Regions from separate parts of the Homo sapiens genome. Here region 2 is linked to region 1. The links come from fine-mapping of genetic effects on gene expression. A gene starts in region 1. The other region holds a variant in brackets. All regions are shown on one strand. Distances are from middle to middle.

Region 1 (5,375 bases):
TGGTGAAGGAAGCCTGAGGCACAGAGGTGGTAGGACTAGAACTCTGAATAAAAAGCACAGCTGAACCTGAGGACTTGAGGCAGGAGACCAGAGTATTTAAGAACAGGTGTGGCCAGGCATGGTGGCTCATGCCTGTAATCCCAGCACTTTGGGATGCTGAGGTGGGTGGATCACCTGAGGCTGGGGGTTCGAGACCAGCCTGACCAACATGGAGAAACCCCATCTCTATTAACAATACAAAATTAGCCAGGCGTGGTGCACATGCCTGTAATCCCAGCTACTCACGAGGCTGAGGCAGGAGAATCGCTTGAACCTGGGAGGCAGAGGTTGCAGTGAGGTGAGGCGAGATCGTGCCATTGCACTCCAGCCTGGGCAAAAAGAGCGAAACCCCTTCTCAAAAAAAAACAGGTGCTTCACCCCTCATACACAGAATGACCCTGGCCAAGTCACCTGACCTCACTAAGACTCAGTTTCCTTATATGTAAAATGAGGATGTTCATTAACTCATTCAACAAATATTTATTGAGCGTATACTGTTCTGGGAGATGAATACAGATACAGTCCCTGCCTTCCTGAGCTTGCAGTCTAGTGGGTCTAGATTACAGCAATTTATTTGAGAGGCACAATAAATAATAAATATATAGTAGAAAGTCAAGTAGGGTAAGTGCTATGAAGCAAATTAAAGCAGGATAAGGGTGTTTGAGTGGAGGGTGTTTTAGATGGTATAGTCAGGTGGTTTTCAAGGGGTTTTATGATGTTTCAAATGGACAATTTACATAACGTGCTCAGCTCAGTGCTAACAACAATTGCATGCTTAACAAATATATTATTATATTTGCCAGTTCCACACCTCTCAGTCCACATTTTAGTCTCTGAATAGTAATAATAATTAACACACATAGATCTTACTATGAGCTAGGCACTGCTCTAAGTCCTTTACATATTTTAACTCATTTAATTCTGTTTTCCTTTTTCTTTTTTTTGAGATGGAGTCTTGCTCTTGTCACCCAACCTGGAGTTCAATGGCATGATCTCGGCTCTCTGCAACCTCCACCTCCTGGGTTCAAGTGATTCTCCTGCCTCAACCTCCGAGAATAACTGAGATTACAGGTGCCTGCCACCAGGCCCAGCTAAGTTTTGTATTTTTAGTAGAGATGGGGTTTCACCATTTGGCCAGGCTGGTCTCGAACTCCTGACCTCAGGTGATCCGCCTGCCTCAGCCTCCCAAAGTTCTGGGATTACAGGCATGAGCCACCATGCCTGGCCTAATTCTTACAGTAACTCTGTGAGGTGGGAACTATTATTATCCTTCTCCCTCCCCCAACCCTCGTTTTTGTTTTTAGGGATGGAGTCTTGCTCTGTTGCCCAAGCTGGAGTGGAATGGCATGATCCTAGCTCACTGTGGCCTTGAACTCCTGTGCTTGAGCAATCCTCCCACCTCAGCCTCCCACTATAGGTGGGAGTCCCAGCTACTTGGACATATTATCCCCTTTTATGGTGTTGAAAAATGAGGCACAGCCGGGCGCGGTGGCTCAAGCCTGTAATCCCAGCACTTTGGGAGGCCGAGAAGGGCGGATCACGAGGTCAGGAGATCGAGACTAACACGGTGAAACCCCGTCTCTACTAAAAATACAAAAATTAGCTGGGCGTGGTGGTACACGCCTGTAGTCCCAGCTACTCGGGAGGCTGAGGCAGGAGAATCGCTTGAACCCGGGAGGCAGAGGTTGCAGTGAGCCGAGATTCCGGCACCGCACTCCAGCCTGGTGACAGAGCGAGACTCCGTCTCAAATAAATAAATAAATAAATAAAAGAAAAATGAAAATCAAACCATTAGAAAAGGCTGGAGACTAAGAATTGAACCCAGGCAATCTGTTTCCAGAGGCTGTGCTGGGATCGTGAAGGGGCTGTGATTAGATATCAGGAATGTCTAGCTGGCATCTACAGACTCTGCTGTCAGATGGCCTGGCTTCTTATCCTGTCAGTTTTAAGTCTCTCTGCTTCAGTTTCCTCATCTCTAAAATAGAACACCAGATCCTATCTTACCTTCTAGGTATCATGCTTAAAACAAAAGCCTTCTTTCTGCACTGTGGGTCCGAAGCCTGTTCACAGACCAGCCTAGCAGGGAGTAGGAAGGGTCAAGGGGTCTCTGACACTTCTGGAAGGAAATAAAGACACACTAAGCAATTGTCAGAGCAACCCTCAGTTCATCTGGAGACCAGACCTCGGAAGCTAGGTCTTTATAATGTTGAGATTGCCAGGGGGGAATTAGGAGATCCTTAAATGCAGAAGACAGGTTCAATCTTGGCGTGGTCTCAACACTTAGCTTCCATTTCAGGCCTTACACAGCTGGCACGAGAGGTAAAGTCTCATCGAATGTCAGGGTTGGAAGGGCGCCTAGAGACAGTCAAACTAGTGGATGGGGAAACTGAGGTACAGAGAAGCTGAGTGACTTACCCGAGGTCACTAAGCGTTTAGGGGGAGTCAGTTGGGGTAGCCTGGCTACAACCTCTACGCGAGTTACTTCCCTGAGGCTTCCAAATCTCGGCCTCTTACTTGGAAGGAGGAAAGGGCCTCACCGTCCAGGGCTCTAGCTGCCTCATGCCCCACGTGGGTGCTGCGGGATCCCGGAACACCCCGGCTCCAGACCGGGTTCGACTTGCGCGTGCGCACACGCGGCCAGCCCCTTGCCTTTTCCTCTCTCTTTTTCGTTCCCCTCTCCTCTCCTTACCGGCCTAGGGGAGGGGGGAAACAAGGGGAGCTAGAAGTTGGCCTCAGCCAATGGGCGGACGGGCCGCGGGCCCGGCCCCCTCCTTCCCTCCGGCGCGGCCCAATAGAAATTTACTACAATGTTGTGGCGAACTGAGGGGGAGGGGCGCGGGCCGGCGGGCGGGCTGCGGGCCGGGCTGGCCTCGCCTCGCAGAGGGAAGGCGGGAGGGCGCGCGCCAGGGTCGCTCGCTCGCTCCCTCCCTCCGCTGGTGCGTTTAGTCAGTCAGCCAGCAGCAGCCGGCGGGCCCGCGAGCCGCAGAGGGCCCGAGCCTCGGACGCCGGCGCCTCCTCCTGCCATTGTTCGTCGGGCTGCAGCAGTGGCGGGCGCAGGAGCCCGGCCCCGGAGCCACCGGTGAGGCGAGGCGGCGGCGGCGGCGCGGGAGCCGGGGCGGTGGGCGTGGAGCTGTCCCCGTGGGGACGGTCCTGGCGGCCGCGGCGGCGCTGCAGCCTCTTTGTCTGCAACCCCCGACAGGCCCCGGGCCGGGGCGCGGGCTCTCCCGCGGAGGAGCCTCGTGTGCACGCCGAGTCGCCAGCCGGGACGCGGCCCGAGGAGCGAGGGGCGGGCCAGAGCCGCTGAGGAAAGGGGAAGGGGTTGCGTCGCGGGAGTGTTGGAAAGTTAGGCTTGAGATGTATTTTTGACGGTCCCCTCGGGTGCGTCAATCACGGTGCGGTGTGCAGGAGCCTCGGGAGGAAACCAAATGCGGAGAATCGCAGGTTTCAGACGGTGAAGGTGTTGCGTGCAGCCGCGGAGCGATTTCTTCCTGGCGAGGGAGCTGGGCTGTCTGCAGAAGTCAGGCGGAATCTGAGGACTGCAGGGAGCCCTGGCAAGACTTCGCAGGCCTTCCCGCCACCGACGCCTGCATCATTGAAAAACATGTTCCCCCTTAGTCTTCTGGGTTCCCAGCGAGCAGAGGGTTAAATCTATTCTCTCAGCGTCGTGACCTCCTTTTTCAGTTCGCGCATCTGTCGGCTTGGAAATCTTCCTCCGTGCTCGCTGGGCTGCTGTACCTGTGGAGAGGCCGGGTCTGGGCTCGCCCTCCGAGATTGACCAGCAGGCCATTATTCCTGGGGAGGTTTTGCCAAAACAGGTCATGCTCCCCAAGAACAGGCATTCTCTTGAGAAAAAGTGATCTCACGTGAAACAGATTGCTGATGGACTGGTTTCTGGCCACATGATAGCGACTGTCATCCTGTTGTTTCTTTAACTGTACCCTGTACCCTGCCATAAATGACTAGTCTGTGGAGACTTGTTTTTTGGCATGTAGTTGTTCATTAGGAGATAGTTTTTTCTTTTTCCTTTTTTTTTTTCAGATGCTTTTTTTTTTTTTTTTTTTTGTAGTCTGGGTGATTTCACAGCTGCTATTTTCTTCCCTTCTGTTTTTAGGGAAAATTGCAAGAAATGGTTGTGTCTTGTGTCTTGGATATTATTATAGTGGATTTATACTCTCTTGAGGATGTACTGTAGTCAATGCTGTTGCTCATTGTTGTTTTCTGTATTCTCAGTCCTGGCAAAAATTTTAGTTGGTTTGATCCCTTTAATCAAAAGCAGGATATATAGCCCGTATATGTTTCTTCCCGTCCCAGTTTTGTTAATGTAGCACTAACCCCTACTTTTTATGGAAACTTGATGTACTCTTCATTTTCCTTTTCTGTAAATTGAAAGTGTAATCAGTTCTTCGCCAGTTGTAAAATTTTTGGTTTGGGGTGTTATTAATATAATCCATGTAGCGTACATGCTATCTGGCGTACAGTAAGCACTCAATAAATGGCAGATTCAAAAATAGATGTAATAACTGAACACCAGATTGCCTTAGAATCAAAGTAGTTAATTCAGTGTGCTTTCTATAAGAAGCTTATAATTAAGGTAAATATAGATATTATTCATACACCTGGGGAAACAAGTACAGTATATCTTTGGCACTATTAAAAGTGAACTATGTCGGGCACGGTGGCTCACGCCTGTAATCCCAGCACTTTGGGAGGCCAAGGCGGGTGGATCACTTGAGGTCAGGAGTTCGAGACTAGCCTGGCCAGCATGGTGAAACCCCATCTGTACTAAAAATGCAAAAAAGTAGCTGGGTGTGGTGGCATGTGCCTGTAATCCCACCTACTCAGTAGGTGGAGGCAGGAGAATCGCTTGAACCTAGGAGGCGGAGGTTGCAGTGAGCCGAGATTGCACCACTGCACTTCAACCTGGGCAACAGAGCAAAACTGTCTCAAAAAAAGGTGAACTCATTGTTGAACATAAGTTCAGAATGCCAACCTTCTGATTCCTCTGTCTTCTACCAACAAAACTATACATTTTTCCTTGTATGTTTGAATTCAGGCTTAGAAATAAATGTTTTTAATCTGTAGGTTTTACCAAAATTCTCCCAACAATTTTTTTTTTTTTTAAACAGGGTCTCATTCTGTCACCCAGGCTGGAGTGCAGTGGCATGATCACGGCTCACTGCAGCCTTAAACTCCTGGGCTCAAGTGATCCTCCTGCCTCAGCCTCCCTAGTAGCTGGGACTATAGGCGTGTGCCCCCATGCTTGGCTAATGTCTTTTTATTTTTTGTAGAGACAGTCTCACTATGTTGCCTAGGGTGGTCTTGAATTCCTGGACTCA
Region 2 (5,375 bases), 57 kb before region 1:
GAATTGTGGGAGAGGGAGGCTGCCGCAGTGTCCCTGTGCGAGCTGGTGAGGTTGGACTAAGACATCCACATCACAGATGTCTCTTGTGAGCCTGCTTTTTTTTTTTTTGAGACAGAGTCTCACCCTGTCACCCAGGCTGGGGTGCAGTGGCATGATCTAGGCTCACTGCAACCTCCGCCTCCTGGGTGCAAGCAATTCTTCTGTCTCAGCCTCCTAAGTAGCTGGGATTACAGGAGCATGCCACTACGCCCGGCTAATTTTTGTATTTTAGTAGAGACGGGGTTTCACCGTGTTAGTCAGGCTGGTCTCGAACTCCTGACCTCGTGATCCACCCACCTCAGCCTCCCAAAGTGCTGGAATTACAGGCATGAGCCACTGCGCCTGGCTGAGAGCCTGCTTTTTTGCCGGGCACTGCTGGTAGGCCCAAGGGTACAGCAGGGAACAAAATGGACGAAGTCTTCTGGCTTCAGGGAACTTACATGGGCGAGAGACCCAAGTGGGCAGAAAAGAAGATGAATGTAAGTCAGGAAGTGGTTTGTGCTGTAATGAAAAATGAAGCCGCTGAAGGAGCTAGAGAGAGTTGGTGGGGAGGATGGTACTTTAGATAGAGTGGTCAGGGAGGGCCTCCCTGAGGAGGTGACATTTGAATAGAGTCCTGAATTAAGTGATGGAGCAAGCCATGCAAAATATGGGGGGACCGGGGTTCCAGGCAGAGGCAAGAGCAAGTCCAGAGGCCCCGAAGTGGGGAGGTGGGAGCGGGCTTGACGTGTCCAGGGAACATCAAAGAGGCCAGTGTGTGGCAGGGGCACATCGGTGGAGGGGAACATGCTGGGAACTGAGATCCCAAAGGTAGTCGGGGCAGCTTGCAGAACAGAGAGAATTTTGGGAAGTCGCTGGGGGACTGAGAGCAGGGGAGTGGCATGATTTGTCTTGGGGCTGGAGAAGGGAGTCTACGGTGGCCAGAAGGACGGGGCGTGGCTGTGGGTGGAGGGGAGAGAGGGGGGCCGTGAGGAGAGGAGCCCGGGGCCCTACCTGGCGGGCAATCAGCGCTGGGCCGCTCAGCCCGCTTGGACCAACTACAGCAGCTTCATCACCCACTTCCCAGCATCCCAGCCCCCTCTGGGAATGGAAGGATCCTTCACAAATCAAAATAGCAGGCAAAGAACAGCCTCTAATTGTTCTGCGTAAGAGCAGAGAAATTAGACGAGTCAGCTGTGGGGTTGAGACCGCCTCCCACACAGCTGTGATCCCACACCCCACTGAAGACACTTCCTGAGACTTGCAATTCTGCTGTATCTGAGCAAAACTTTTTCCTTCTCCAGCCCCAGAGCAAATGACAGCTATTTGGGAGGGAGTAGGATAGATGCTGCCCTGGAGGACAATGAGTGAGTCAATTTCTTTTCAACCAAAAATACCAGTCACTTCATGCAGGAACAGCCTTAGCTGATGCGAGTTTATTCCGTCATTCAAAAACACTGAGTGCCTCGTCCTAGGTGTCCAGGGCTGGGCATGGGATCAGAGCGATTCTAAAGGAATGGAGGCATACAGTATGGGGCCACCCTTGGGGTGGTGGAAAGAGGGAGCGTGGGAGTCAGGAGGTCTCAGTTCTCGCCTTGGCTCCGCCACTGTTGCTGTGTGACCTTGGGTGAGTCCTGCTGCCTCTCTGGGCTTCAATCTCCCTGTCTCTCCCAAATGGAGGCTTTAGGCTACATAGTAATTCTCAAACTTTTGAGTTCATAAGAATCACTTGGGGTGAGGAGGTGCTTCTTAAAGATGAAGATTCCCAGGCCCCAGTTCCAGAGATAAAGATCGCTCAGATCTGAGGTGCAGTTCAGGACCCTGCATTTCTTCCAGGCTCTTCCGGTAATTCTGAAGCGATACCTCAGGCCACGCTTTAATAAAATCACTTCCCCTCAATGTGTCTCTCTTCCTGCTCTGGAATTCAAGGAGTCACTCATGTAACCCTCCTCTGGGTATCTCAGATCACTCCAGAGGCATGAGAGCAGCGTCATATAGCCCTGTCTCGGGGTGCCCGTGTGTTGCTGTGGTGGTGACACTGCATTTGGGAAGGTCTGGCTCAGTGTATGCAGTCTCCCCCAGGCTACCTGTTGCCCTGCCCAGGCCCTGGTGCAGAAGGGGCCATGGCTGTAAACTGGCCAAACAAGGGGCCAACTGTAATGTAGATAGCTGTGCAGGGCAGAGAGCATGGAGGGATGCTGGGAGTGCTGGGTGCAGAGTTTGGCTATAGACATCTGGCCTGGACCCCTGGGCTCATGCCTTGGGTTGGATGTGTGACCCTGTCACCTGCTCCGCTTCCCCACACCACTGTGGATGGGAAGAGGGATGCACTGTGGCTTCTGCAGAGAGGTGAGTCCAGTTGCATGGGGATGAAGAGGCCTGGATGGAGCCGCAGGAAGGACTGGGGGCTCTGGTCTACCACCGAGGACACCCAGGGGGTCTCAGACCCCAGCCAATCTACTAGGCAGTGTCCCTTCCTCAGAGTTGACCAATCATACTCCCCAAAGGCTAGGTCAGTGCCAGGAGCTAGAGAATCAAGTCACTCTGGTCTAGCCCCCAGCTCCATTCTTCACCTGTGAAGAAAAAGAACAGCGATTGTGTCCAGAGTGCTCTCCATGCATCAGGCTTGGAGCTAAGTGCTGTGTTAGCTTATTAAATTTTCACAGCCATCCTAAGAGGTTGCTACAAACATTACCCCTCTTTTTACAGTTATGGATGCAGA[G/A]CCTTAGAGAGTTCAAGTTTCTAACTCAGAGTCACTCAGCTAATATAATAAGTAGTAGAGGCAGGATTAGAACCCAGATTTGCTTTCTGCTGGAGCCCAGTTTTATTTTTAAACATATTGCTTAGTACCTTTCAGAAGATAAGTATTTTTCTTTTTCTTTTCTTTTATTTACTTATTTATTTTTGAGACAGTGTCTTGCTCTGTCAACCACTCCGGAGTACAGTGGTACGATCTTGGCTTGCTGCAACCTCTGCCTCCTGGGCTCAAGCGACCCTCCCACCTCAGTCTCCTGAGTGATGGGACTATAGGCACTCACCACCATGCCTGGCTAATTTTTGTATTATTATTATTATTATTGTTATTTGTAGATATGGGGTTTCACTGTGTCGCCCAGGGTGGTTTTGAACTAGGCTCAAGCAATCCACCTGCCCTGCCTTGGCCCCCCAAAGTGCTGGGATTACAGGCATGAGCCACTGCACCTGGCTTAGGATTTTTCTTTTTTGTTTTTGAGACGGAGTCTCGGTCTGTCGCCCAGGCTGGAGTGCAATGGCACTATCTCGGCTCACTGCAACCTCTGCCTCCCGGGTTCAAGCAGTTCTCTTGCCTCAGCCTCTCGAGTAGCTGGGACAACAGGCGTGCACCACTACGCCCAGCTAATTTTTGTATTTTTTGTAGAGACAGGGTTTCACCATGTTGGTTGGTCAGGATGGTCTCAATCTCTGGACCTCGTGATCCGCCCACCTCGGCCTCCCAAAGTGCCGGGATTACAGGTGTGAGCCACCACACCCGGCCTAGGATTTTTCTTTTTTTTTCTTTTTTTTTTTTTTTGAGACGGAGTCTCGCTTCTGTGGCCCAGGCGGGAGTGCAGTGGCGCAATCTCGGCTCACTGCAAGCTCCGCCTCCCGGGTTCACGCCATTCTCCTGCCTCAGCCTCCCGAGTAGCTGGGACTACAGGCGCCCACCATCACGCCCGGCTATTTTTTTTGTATTTTTAGTAGAGAGGGGGTTTCACCGTGTTAGCCAGGATGGTCTCGATCTCCTGACCTCGTGATCCGCCCGCCTCGGCCTCCCAAAGTGCTGGGATTACAAGCGTGAGCCACCGCGCCCGGCCAGGATTTTTCTTAAAACACCTTCTGCCAAAGTTATTCACAACCAGAGAAATCCTTTTGCTTCTGTTGTCGGGGAAAGGAGCGATGCCAAATCAGATAGTGCAGGGTTCTAGTCCCACCTTTGCCCCAACCCTTTTTTTTTTTTTTTTTTGAGACAGAGCTTCGCTTTTATCGCTCAGGCTGAAGTGCAATGGCGCAATCTCGGCTCACTGCAACCTCTGCCTCCCAGGTTCAAGCAATTTTCCTGCCTCAGCCTCCCAAGTAGCTGGAATTACAGGCACCCACCACCACACCCAGCTAATTTTTGTATTTTTAGTAGAGATGGGGTTTCGTCTTGTTAGCCAGGATGGTCTTGAACTCTTGACCTCAGGTGATCCACCCGCCTTGGCCTCCAAAAGTGCTGGGATTACAGTTGTGAGGCACCATGCCTAGCCTCCCCTGACCTTTTGCATGTCCTTAGGAAAGCTACTTCCCTTCCTTGAGTTTCATGTGAAACTGAAATCTGTGAAATGGGATTAATTACACATGCATTTCTTTCTAAGGTACACTAAGATGAAGACGGCCACCAACATCTACATCTTCAACCTGGCCTTAGCCGATGCGCTGGCCACCAGCACGCTGCCTTTCCAGAGTGCCAAGTACCTGATGGAGACGTGGCCCTTCGGCGAGCTGCTCTGCAAGGCTGTGCTCTCCATCGACTACTACAATATGTTCACCAGCATCTTCACGCTCACCATGATGAGTGTTGACCGCTACATCGCTGTCTGCCACCCTGTCAAGGCCCTGGACTTCCGCACGCCTGCCAAGGCCAAGCTGATCAACATCTGTATCTGGGTCCTGGCCTCAGGCGTTGGCGTGCCCATCATGGTCATGGCTGTGACCCGTCCCCGGGGTGAGTGAGTGAGTGCACCATGGCACAGGCCACTGACCACAGGAGGCAGTACATGGGCCTTTGTGGGCTTGCAGGGCACTTACCAGGGTGAGTGTAGGTGGCTCATCAGCAGAGGTTGGATTCTGATCAAGATCAATGATGGTGTGGTGGCTGGCCAGTGGGAGTGTAGAAGAAGGTCAACCAATGGGAATGGGAATAGCTGGCCAGGGGGGCATGCGGATGGTTGACTATTGTGAAGATGAATGACTGATCAGTGGTCATATGGGTTGCTGGCCAAAGGGAATGTATGAATTTATGAAGGAGATTATGGATGGCTGGTTATGTACATGTAGGTGGCTGGCCAGGGATGTGTGGATGTATAGAGAGATGGTTGGATGTCCAGTGAGGTGAGGGTGTCACTGACCAGTGAGCAGTGGAGGCTGCAAGATCTGTGGTCCCATTTTAAACTCCCTTTCATCCTAATTTGAAAACCACTGGCCTGGATGACCAAAGCAAAGCCTAGAGAATAGCCTGCAGGGAATGACAAATAGGAGCTAAAATGGTAATTATAGTAACTGCCTGTATCAGGGGAGCTGCAATAACATTCTCCAAAGCTCAGGGGCTTAACACTGTAGAGGTTTCTCTCTCACTCCCA

Evidence for each region. PIP is the estimated chance that this variant, and not a neighbour inherited with it, causes the effect.
Region 2: its variant is the best candidate, but not a certain one, in a credible set for the expression of EPB41 in whole blood (TOPMed, PIP 0.58).

The regions. Positions count from the first base shown.
Region 1 is chr1:28,911,651-28,917,025 of GRCh38, forward strand. It overlaps EPB41 (erythrocyte membrane protein band 4.1), which reads left to right and starts at 2,919. Exons shown (of 21, transcript NM_001376013.1): 1 at 2,919-3,118. RefSeq lists a silencer at 2,684-3,343 and an enhancer at 3,564-3,723.
Region 2 is chr1:28,854,563-28,859,937 of GRCh38, forward strand. OPRD1 (opioid receptor delta 1) reads left to right here. Exons shown (of 3, transcript NM_000911.4): 2 at 4,392-4,741. Among named protein-coding and RNA genes, the nearest start is that of OPRD1, 45 kb to the left of the region's middle. RefSeq lists an enhancer at 387-888. The variant G/A (reference allele first, on the strand shown) is at 2,741.